3 linked regions of the Homo sapiens genome follow. The protein of the gene in region 1 purifies or fractionates together with the protein of each later gene. This does not show direct contact. Each region holds a gene or a part of one and is shown in the gene's direction. Other genes may lie near its edges. The genes, in order: HAO2, EIF4G3 and ASPSCR1.

The links.
Region 2: the proteins of HAO2 (region 1) and EIF4G3 purify together in Homo sapiens (affinity purification with mass spectrometry; 2 studies listed by BioGRID and IntAct, with this or other methods). This does not show direct contact.
Region 3: the proteins of HAO2 (region 1) and ASPSCR1 purify together in Homo sapiens (affinity purification with mass spectrometry; 2 studies listed by BioGRID and IntAct, with this or other methods). This does not show direct contact.

The regions. Positions count from the first base shown.
Region 1 is NC_000001.11:119,385,681-119,389,505, forward strand, and holds part of HAO2 (2-Hydroxyacid oxidase 2), read left to right. Parts: exon of another isoform or gene 1-316; intron 317-941; coding exon 942-1,151; intron 1,152-3,825. UniProt on the Homo sapiens protein: Oxidase that catalyzes the oxidation of medium and long chain hydroxyacids such as 2-hydroxyhexadecanoate and 2-hydroxyoctanoate, to the correspondong 2-oxoacids.
Region 2 is NC_000001.11:20,939,298-20,942,897, reverse strand, and holds part of EIF4G3 (eukaryotic translation initiation factor 4 gamma 3), read left to right. Parts: intron 1-567; coding exon 568-1,407; intron 1,408-1,502; coding exon of another isoform or gene 1,503-1,522; exon of another isoform or gene 1,523-1,654; intron 1,655-3,600. UniProt on the Homo sapiens protein: Component of the protein complex eIF4F, which is involved in the recognition of the mRNA cap, ATP-dependent unwinding of 5'-terminal secondary structure and recruitment of mRNA to the ribosome. Functional homolog of EIF4G1.
Region 3 is NC_000017.11:81,980,602-81,984,426, forward strand, and holds part of ASPSCR1 (tether containing UBX domain for GLUT4), read left to right. Parts: intron 1-2,952; coding exon 2,953-3,067; intron 3,068-3,825. UniProt on the Homo sapiens protein: Tethering protein that sequesters GLUT4-containing vesicles in the cytoplasm in the absence of insulin. Modulates the amount of GLUT4 that is available at the cell surface. Enhances VCP methylation catalyzed by VCPKMT.

The DNA.
Region 1 (3,825 bases):
AGAGAGAGACAGCCATGATAAAGTGGGAATCCCTGGCTATAGTAGAGATACTAAAGCCAGCCTTTTCAACCAGTGGGCAACTGTGACACCAAGCCAAGTAACTCAACAGTTCTCATTAATCACAGATTGGCCTTGAGGTGCTCCAAAATCCTTATTCAAATTCCAGAAGCACATTGAGATTTATAAATGTTTGATGTACATGGTGAGCCAAGAGTAAATATTGGGTAATAACTGATTTAGTATTGCTTAGTTCTTATCCTGGGTATGCCTCAACCGTAACATATCACATTGACCAATAAATGCTTTTGCTTATCCATCTTATATACTAAACTCTGAATTTTTTAAAGTAGAAACTTTGTCTTATTTGTCTTTGTGTCCCCAGATCCTAGCACAATTACTGACAACAACATGATTCATGGTCAATGATAAGCAATTGAAGTAGAAATTCTTTTATACAAAGTTTGTTAGACAAAGGAGCTAGAAACGTTGTTGGGTTTTGTTGCTCCTGTTTCTTTTTGTTTTCTTTGTTGTTTGTTTGTTTGTTTGTTTTTGAGACAAGGTCTCACTCTGTCAGCCAGGCTAGTATGTGGTGGCGCCATCACTACTCACTGCAGTCTAGACCTCCTGAGCCCAAGCGATCCTCCCACTTCAGCCTCCCGAGTAGCTGGGACTACAGGCATGCACCACGATTTATTTTTTTAGAGGAGCAGCAGCAGGGTCTCTGTGTGTTGCCCATGCTTGTCTCAAACTACTAGGCTCAAAAGATCCTTCCGCCTCAGCCCCACAAAGTGCTGGGATTACAGGCATGAGCCACCATGCCCAGCCCTGTTCTTCCTCCTTCCAGTTTATAAATGGCAGCTCTCTAAATGTGTCTCATCTTTGGAATGCATCAAGTAGCCTTGTGAGAGCTCAGGACTAAGTTCCCTTTTTATTTCCTATAGGGAAATGCAATACCTTATTTCCAGATGACTCCTATCAGCACTTCTCTCTGCTGGAATGATCTCTCCTGGTTTCAGAGCATAACTCGATTGCCCATCATCCTGAAAGGGATTTTGACAAAAGAGGATGCAGAGTTAGCTGTGAAGCACAATGTCCAGGGTATCATTGTTTCCAACCATGGTGGGAGGCAGCTTGATGAGGTTCTTGCTTCAGTAAGTAGGATTACTTCAGAGAAGGGTGTGTTTGTGAGTGCTGTGTGTGTATGTGTGAGTGTGTCCACATCAAGGGACTCTGTGAAATCTGAGCATATTTCACTCCTCTGTACCACATGTGTTGGTATGTATCTGTGAATTTTAAGGACTGTTAATTATTATTAGTAGCCTACTGTGTGCTAAGCTGTTTTTTCAACCTTTACATATAGCATCTCTAAGTCTCATGCCAATGCTGCAAGATGGGTGTTATTATCCCTGATTTGCAAATGGGGATACTGTAGTTTAGTGATGTTAAATAACTTATCTTTAGTTCACTTAAGATAATAAATAATTAATGTTGAATTTGATTAGACAGATGTTCTAAAGTAAACACGTTTCATGGCAAAACTCTAAAAACACCCTGATGTGTCTTTTGCTAAAATCTATAAAAGTCCATAATTTTTTCCCTTAACTCATAAATTTATGTTCATTATAAATGAAGTTTGAGGGCAAGAAAGTGAGAGAAAGTAAGGCAGGGAAAGAATCTTTACATGGGAATTTGTTGTTGATTTGTTTTCATTGAGTTATATTTTTTCAAATGTTCTATTGCTGCTTGACTTGTTTTAAGAAAGAGAAATGAGGTTTTTTCCTCTTCAGTTTCATTGACACTTATATAAATAAAACATGTTCACTGCAGATAAATTAGAAAACATACATAAGCAAAAGATAAAAATTAACACTAATTTTATCACTATCACTAACGTCAACATTTTGGTCACTGTTAACATCTTCTTAATGCAAATACAATTTTTGGTGTTTAAGAAAAGTATAAATAATATTGTGTTTTTTTCTTTTACTTAGCATTATATTAAGAGCAACTTTTTGTTTCAGTATATATGCTCCTCTTATTTTTAATGGTATGTAGTATGAACAGACAACTATATAACCAACCTCCATTGTAGAACATCTGTATTGCCTCTAATCTTTCCCTATTTTAAACAACACATCAGTGACTGAATCCATAGCACAATCTCAAGTACTTCTTTAAGATAAATTCCAGGAATTAGAAATTTGCACTAGCTGGTTGGTACATTCCAAGACACGTGATGCTTGGAAGCCTAAGAGCCAGCCACTCACCTCCTCCTCTGCACCAGCTCTAACTGCTAAAGGCAGTGGAATGCAAGCCCACGTGGAGAGCAGGGGTCACCCTTCACTGTGTCTCTCTGGTAAGAGCTGAACCGAAGTGGTTGGGTCTCCTGCTTTTCATCTCACCTATTGACCTGCAAACTTAGGAGAAAGTGGTTGGGCTGAGCACACACTGAGCTCTCTCACCCAACCCCTGCCAGGATGCCTACAAGCCATCCAGTATTTAGCAAAACAGAGAAAGCAAAAGAGCATAGCATGCCCTGGGTCATCCCAACTATGCCTAAATAGGAGCAGAAGGCAATGAAGAGCCCATTACCAACAAGCAGCAAACAGTAGAATATAGGCTTTTGAAAGAAAGCTAATAAAATACATCATACAATAGGTGTCAGGCTCTCATTAATCAACTTAGCTGGTCTTGTTCTTTTGGAATAACTGAGTAATGAGTAGACAAAGAGGAAGACTAATTCTCCCATTGTGCTTCCCCACTAGAGAATGAGTATTGGCTAAGGTAGGGGCCAGGGAGAGGAGAATTTCTCCTATCTTATTGTGCTAATCAACTTGATATTCTCCCAAGCCATTTGGCTTCACATCCAAACTCAAGTTCACTTGGAGACAGCACAAATATCAGTGTGAGTCTCGTGAGGGTTTTGCTTCAGGTGAAACCTGACCCTGTGCTTGTATAACCCTGCCTCACTTGCCTCACCTTAATCCTAGCCCCAGGTCTATTTATTTATAAAAACAAACTTCCAGCTCACAGGTCAGAGTTTGCCATTTGTTTTTTTAAAACATTGTGTTCAAACATCATTTATCTGAGTTTTTTTAAAAAAATTATTTCCACAGGTTATTAAGGAACAGGTGGTGTCTGCTACATGAGTAAGTTCTTTAGTGGTGATTTGTGAGATTTTGGTGCAACCATCACCTGAGCAGTATACACTGCACCCTATTTGTAGTCTTTTATTCCCACCCCCTTCACACCCTTTCTCCCTTAGTCCCCAAAGTACATGGTGTCACTCTTATGCCTTTGCATCCTCATAGCTTAGCTCCCACTTATGAGTGAGAATATATGATGTTTGGTTTTCCATTCCTGAATTACTTCACTTAGAATAACACTCTCCAATCTCATCCAGGTTGCTGCGAATGCCATTAATTCATTCCTTCTTATGGCTGAGTAGTATTTCATCATATATATATATATATATATATATATATATACACCACAGTTTCTTTATCCACTCATTGATTGATGGGCATTTGGGTGGGTTCCACATTTTTGCAATTGTTAATTCTGCTGCTATAAACATGCGTGCAAGTATCATTTTCATATAATGACTTCTTTTCCCCTGGGTAGATACCTGGTAGTGGGATTGCTGGATCAAATGGTAGTTCTACTTTTAGTTCTATAAGGAATCTCCACACTGTTTTCCATAATAGTTGTACTAGCTCACATTCCCACCAGCAGTGTAGAAGTGTTCCCTGTTCACTGCATCCACATGAACATCTATTATTTTTTGATTATGGCCATTCTTGTAGCAGTAAGGAAGTATTGCAT
Region 2 (3,600 bases), about 98 Mb from region 1:
AGTAAATTTCATTAAATAAAATGTGATGCTTTATCTTGAGTTTTTATACAAGTAATACTTTTTAAAATAAAAATTATCTCCCCAAATACAAAAATATATAGAATAAAAAATAACATCAGTCCCTTTATAATAATTTAATTTTTAATTGTTTGCCCTTGTACTGTTTTGCCACTGTAATATATCCTTGGAAAAAAAGTTTTTTAGGGAACGAGAAGTGGTAGAAATGAAGGTTTTCCTACCTTAAAGAAAAGCCTCACTCTTAAACCAAGAATGGTTTAGCCTCAGTTTTGGTGAGCTTTTCAGTTGTATTCTTGATATATAATTTTTTGGTGAATAGATTCCTTCTCTTACTCCAAAACAGACTTTATGTATTGGATACCAAGTAAATAGTAGGTTTAAGTAAAAAAAGAAAAGAGACAATGTTTTTGGCATACCAGAATAAGTCTAATATATTGGTCTCTGTTCTGTTACCTGTAATTTAGGGTAAGACATTGAAAGAATTGGCCCAAGGCAATATGTAGTCTCTGATCCAAGAATTATTCTTAAAACTTATTTTTTTTTCCCCAGAGGAGAAGCCAAAACCAGATCCAGTGTTAAAGTCTCCTTCCCCAGTCCTTAGGCTAGTCCTCAGTGGAGAGAAGAAAGAACAAGAAGGCCAGACATCTGAAACTACTGCAATAGTATCCATAGCAGAGCTTCCTCTGCCTCCATCACCTACCACTGTTTCTTCTGTTGCTCGAAGTACAATTGCAGCCCCCACCTCTTCTGCTCTTAGTAGCCAACCAATATTCACCACTGCTATAGATGACAGATGTGAACTCTCATCCCCAAGAGAAGACACAATTCCTATACCCAGCCTCACATCTTGCACAGAAACATCAGACCCTTTACCAACAAATGAAAATGATGATGATATATGCAAGAAACCCTGTAGTGTAGCACCTAATGATATTCCACTGGTTTCTAGTACTAACCTAATTAATGAAATAAATGGAGTTAGCGAAAAATTATCAGCCACGGAGAGCATTGTGGAAATAGTAAAACAGGAAGTATTGCCATTGACTCTTGAATTGGAGATTCTCGAAAATCCCCCAGAAGAAATGAAACTGGAGTGTATCCCAGCTCCCATCACCCCTTCCACAGTTCCTTCCTTTCCTCCAACTCCTCCAACTCCTCCAGCTTCTCCTCCTCACACTCCAGTCATTGTTCCTGCTGCTGCCACTACTGTTAGTTCTCCGAGTGCTGCCATCACAGTCCAGAGAGTCCTAGAGGAGGACGAGAGCATAAGAACTTGCCTTAGTGAAGATGCAAAAGAGATTCAGAACAAAATAGAGGTAGAAGCAGATGGGCAAACAGAAGAGATTTTGGATTCTCAAAACTTAAATTCAAGAAGGAGCCCTGTCCCAGGTAAGCCATTCTGCCATTAATCTCGTGCTTGCTGAACATGAAGAAGAGGCAGTGTTTGAGTTATTTTTTAATTGGCTACTTTCCTTGACTTCCAGAAACATCGAATGAATGCTGAAATTCCTAGTCTGGTTTCTTCAGTGGTGTGTTTGTGTTTTAGTACAACCTGCAAAAGAGTTACTCCATTGTCTAAAAATGCAAATGAGAATTTCCAAATATACAAAATGCCTCCAAGGTATATGTCACGAAACATGTTGGGTTTTGTTGTTGTTGTTGTTGCTATTGCCTCATTCATATGAATTGGTTTCTCAATGCTTAATTTTGCTGCTTTGGGGCTAGAAAACAAAAAACCAGGATGGTCTATAGTCCCTAATTCTGTCTTCCTAGAATTTTAAAACCCAGTCAATCCTAAAGGAACTCTTCTATGCATGACCAGTTTTTAAATCTTGGATGTAGGAAGATAGCAATCAGAACATCAAAGGTTTATAACTATTTTTGAAAATATAATGCTGTTGTTGATTCACTTGCAGGTAAGCTTAACGTTCTCTCACTTTGCCTTTTGAAACAGTTTTATTTTTTGTGTACATTTTTACATGGTCATTAATATCCTTGGAGTATTATATTCTTCCCAGTTCAAATTATTTCTTTTTAATGTAGCATCACCTGGGACCTTAGGAACTAACCATTGGGTTATTGTAAGTTTAATCAAAAGTTATCTGAGGCTTATCAGCTATTCTAGGATAAGTTAGCCCATAGGAATATTGAAGTTTTGGCTTTGAACAATTCAGCACAGCCTATCTTCTGCAACATTGCCCTATGCTATATAATTTCCTTTCTCTGTGCCTGTCAGATTAAGTAATGCGTATGTAAATTGGGCTTTTTGATAAATGAGTGCTCCTCCAGCAGTTGATCCTTGACATGCAGTGAATAGGTTTTGGTCACCATCATCCTCAGTATTTTTGTCTATTTTGAGGTGTATAATAAGGAAATTTGACAAACCCAAAAGCTGATCCCTACTTTTGAGATGTGGCTTTTCTACCCAGCTCAGTTCTTGAGACAATTTCCTCATCAGTGTCTGTAAGAGGTGTCTGGCCTTTTGGAACTGCAGAACATCTTGTAGAACACCATGAGCCAGCACAGGAAAGAAAACAATGCAAGGCAATTGGAACAGTGAGAAATTTTTCATAAATCTTTGTAAATTACCTGTTTCCTCAACTATCTGGCTTCCATTGACATCAGTATTCATAGTGCCATCACTGTTTTAGGAAACTTGTTCCTTGGTGGAGAGATGACCTTAGACCTTGTTTTGTCAGTTACCCTTTAGAAAAACAGCCTTGGGGCCGGGTGCAGTGGCTCATGCCTGTAATCCCTGCACTTTGGGAGGCCGAGGTAGGTGGATTGCCTGAGCTCAGGAGTTCGAGACCAGCCTTGGCAACACAGTGAAACCCCATCTCCACTGACATACAAAAAAAATAGCCAGGCATGGCAGTGTGGGCCTGTAGTCCCAGCTACTCGGGAGGCTGAGGCAGGAGAATTGCTTGAACCTGGGAGGCAGAGGTTGCAGTGAGCCAAGATCGTGCCGCCACACTCCAGCCTGGGCAACAGATCGAGACTCCATCTCAAAAAAAAAAAAAAAAAAAAAAAAACTAAACAACTTGGTGTTGGTGTGGCTGTAGGTAAATGCCCTCCGAAGAAACACGTGTTTGTTGGAGAACAGTAATTTGTTTGACACTTCAATGTTCATTTTCATTTGTAGTGATACGATAGTTACAAAAATGAGAGAAACTAATGAACAAAAATGTTTTTAAAATGTAAAAGCAAAGAAAAACAAAACAATCATAGGAAATATAAGTTGAAGATACAAACCATACCTCAGAATTGAAATAAGTGTAAAGTGAAAAGACCATGCATCAAAATCATACTTCACTCATTTCTGACATATATTCTTTTTTTAAACATCAGTTTGCCACTTAGATGACCTGATATTGCAAGACAGTGCCCAGGGATGGATGGGCAAACAGAATTTTGGTTTAAATAATGTTCATACCATGGTACATTTGTTTGAAATGCAGATGCTCTCAATATTAGTATTGTGAACACCAGCACCTTAATCAAAGAGTATAGACTCTTCAGTGGTAATCCAGAGAGCACTTAGAAAAGAAAGAACTGTTTTTTTAATGACTTGGAATAACAGAG
Region 3 (3,825 bases), on another chromosome or scaffold:
TTGCAGGGTGGCCATTCTAACAGGCTGGGAAGTGTAGCCTCCAGCCAGAAGCTGGAAACAGACACTTCAAGAGAGGGAAGAATAAGACAGGGATTTACACCGAATGGGGTGGCTGATACAGACGTACTTAATACGCTGTAGGAGGATCATGAGTATTCATGAAAGGAGAACTGTGCACACAGTTGAGCTTCCTGCCTCTTCACGGGTCCTATGTGCAAAAAATGGCAGTGCCAGCATGACCTGAGGGTGGAATTTTTGGCCTCTGAAGTCAGAGGTGAAGCAGGCTGGGTGAAGTGGCTCATGCCTGTAATCCTAGCACTTTGGGTGCCCGAGGCGGAGGATTGCCTGAGCCCAGGAATTCGAGATCAGCCTGGGGAACATAGTGAGACCCTGTCTCTACAAAAAAAGTAAATAAGTAAATAAATAAATAAATGGCAAATCAGAGGACATGAAGACTGTGCCACGAAAACCCTGACTGTGCCAGAACCACTCCATGGTTGGTGGTTTCTTATCAGGAAATACCTGTGGGTTGTTTTGAAGAAACCGCAAGAGAGAAGGGCCTGGCGGGAGGTTGGCTGATGTCAGATACCAGCCCAGGGGTCTTTGGAAAGGGCTGCTTTCTGTTTATCCCTTAGGGAAGAGAGCCTGCAGATGTGTCTGATCTCCCACCCAGCCATGGCCAGGAACTCAGCTTTCAAGGTTTCTGGGGTCCCCTGGGCCAAGAGGAGGCTGGTTCAGTTGGTTGGGGGGGGCTTAGGGTTTCATTTTTATTTCTTTTTTATTTTATTATTTTTTGAGGTGGAGTCTCGCTCTGTCACACAGGCTGTAGTACAGTGGCGCTATCTCGGCTCACTGCAACCTCTGTCTCCCAGGTTCAAGTGATTCTTCTGCCTCAGCCTCCCGAGTAGCTGGGATTACAGGCGTGCGCCATCATGCCCAGCTAATTTTTGTATTTTTAGTAGGGACGGGGTTTCACCATGTTGGTCATGCTGGTCTTCAAGTCCTGACCTCAGGTGATCTGCCCGCCTTGGTCTTCCAAAGTGTTGGGATTACAGGCATGAGTCACTGTGCCTGGCCATTTTTCTGAAACAGAGTCTTGCTCTGTCACCTAGGCTGGAGGGCAGTGGCATGATCTCAGCTCACCGCAACCTCTGCCTCCCGGGTTCAAGCGATTATTGTGCCTCAGCGTCTTGAGTAGCTGGAATTACAGGCACGTGCCACGCCTGGCTAATTTTTGTATTTTTAGTAGTGACGGGGTTTCACCATGTGGACCAGGCTGGTCTCAAACTCCTGACCTCAAGTGATCCGCCCGTCTTGGCCTCCCAAAGTGCTGGGATGATAGGCGTGAGCCACTGCACCTGGCCTCATTTTTCTTTCTTTTTTTTGAGACGGAGTCTCGCTCTGTCGCCCAGGCTGGAGTGCAATGGCGCGATCTTGGCACACTGCAACCTCCGCCTCCCGGGTTGAAGCACTCCTCCCACTTCAGCCTCCCGAGTAGCTGGGACTACAGGCCTGTGCCACCATGCCTGGCTAATTTTTGTATTTTTAGTAGAGACGGAGTTTCACCACATTGGCCAGACTGCTCTCAAACTCCTGACCTCAAGTGATCTGCCCGTCTGGGCCTCCCAAATTGCTGGGATTACAGGCATGAGCCACCGCGCCCAGCGCATTGTTACTTCTCAGTGTTCACCTGCCCGTGGTCTGTGTGGTGGTGTCTGGTGGGAACCAGTGAGTGCGATTTTGAGGCAGGTCCTGCAATACCATAGCCATGTTTTCAGGTGCCCTTTTCCTCTGCTAATGGTACCACTTGCTTACAAAGTGCAGCCGGTGCAGAGGAATGCAGCCCCAGGCGTGAACAGTGCCCTCCGCTCCAAGGTTCCCAGCCTGCCTGCCCTCGGGATCCCCCGATCTGCTATCCTGTCTTGACGTAGACATTTCATGTGGCAATTTCCAGACTCACTTTTCTGGCCAGTGTTGATATAGCAAAGTTTGTTCTCTCTTAATTCTTCCAGATGCCCCTGGGCTGTCTGAACTCTCTTCACTAGTTGTCTCCGACAGCAGCTTGCATTTCCAAAGTGAGGCCAACCACTTTGAGTATATTCAGATTTTTCTTTTCTTTTCTTTCTTTTTCTTTCTTGTTTTCTCTTTCTTTCTTTCTTTCTTCTTCTCTTTTTCTTTTTCTTCCTTTCTCTTTTCTTTTCTTTTCTTTCCTTTCCTTTCCTTTTTTCTTTCACAGAGTTTTGCTCTTGTTGCCCAGGCAGGAGTGCAGTGGCATGATCTTGCCTCACTGCAGCCTCTGCCTCCCGGGTTCAAGCGATTCTCCTGCCTCAGCCTCCCGAGTAGCTGGGACTACAGGCCTGAGCCACCATGCCCAGCTTATTTTTTTGTATTTTTAGTAGAGATGGGATATTTTTGTATTTTCAGTAGAGACGGGGTTTCACCATGTTGGTCAGGCTTGTCTCAAACTCCTGAACCTCAGGTGATCCGCCTGCCTCGGCCTCCGAAAGTGCTGGGATTACAGGCGTGAGCCACTGCGCCCGGGCAGTCAGGTTTTCTGTGGTGGCTCCAGCCGTGACGGCCGGGGTCTGTGACACTCCAGCTTCCGCGAGTGCAGCAGTGTTCACGCCCCAGTCGTTCTCTCTGTGTTTTCCGAGCGTCTGCACTGGGGCTGTCAGCACCCCAGACTCTGAAGGAGCAGCCCCCTCGGCGTGCACCGAGGCCCACATCTCCCTTTTTCCTGCTCCCTTCTGCTTGCAGGAGGCCCCATATGATCGGGGACCCGCCTTGTGCCTCTGCAGGTCATGACGTCCCGCTGTTGGGGAGCTGCCACAGGACGTGGATGGCGGGGCGTGGATGGCGGGGCGTGGATGGTGGGACGGGGATGGCGGGGCGTGGATGGCAGGGCGTGTCAGGCTCTGCAGGGCAGCAAGTGTGCTCTGGTCTGTCTTGCAGGTTTCAGAGGAGCGTGCTCGACCTTTCTCTCCAGTGGAGATTTGCCAACCTGCCCAACAATGCCAAGCTGGAGATGGTGCCCGCTTCCCGGAGCCGTGAGGGGCCTGAGAACATGGTGGGTCGTGCTCTGGGGGAGGCTGACTGTGTGGGGCACAGGATCGTTCAGCTGGCCAGGGACGGGGGACGGGACAGTGGGGGGTGCTGGGGAAGGAGGGACATGAGTCTTAGCACCAGTTCTGCCTTCCCTGGGTTGGGCCCAAACAGCTTCCTGTTTTTTGATAACTGGCAACTGAAAATGAGCATCTCATGTTTTTTTTTTTTTGAGCTGGAGTCTCGCTCTGTCGCCCAGGCTGGAGCTCAGTGGCGCAGTCTCGGCTCACTTCAAGCTCCGCCTCCCGGGTTCACACCATTCTGCCTCAGCCTCCCGAGTAGCTAGGACTACAGGTGCCCGCCACCACACCCGGCTAATTTTTGTATTTTAGTAGAGGCAGGGTTTCACCATGTTGGCCTGCTGGTCTGGAACTGCTGACCTCATGATCTACCCGCCTCGGCCTCCCAAAGTCCTCCCAAAGGATTGCAGGCGTGAGCCTCTGCGCCCCGCCCACGTCATTCTTCATGTGGAAGTTTTTCTTTCTTTCTGGGGTCAGTTGTGCCTTCCCTGGCTCAGGGTGTCAGCAGCATTCACCCACCAGCCTGACCACCTGCTCATAGAATTGCCCAGAATGTTAGAGCCGAAAGCGCTGCATGGATGCCGCAAGGGCAGCCTGTAATCCCAGCACTTTAGGAGGCCGAGGCGGGCAGATCACCTGAGGTCAGGAGTTTGGGACCAGCCGGCCAACATAATGAAACCCCGTCTCTACTAAAAATACAAAA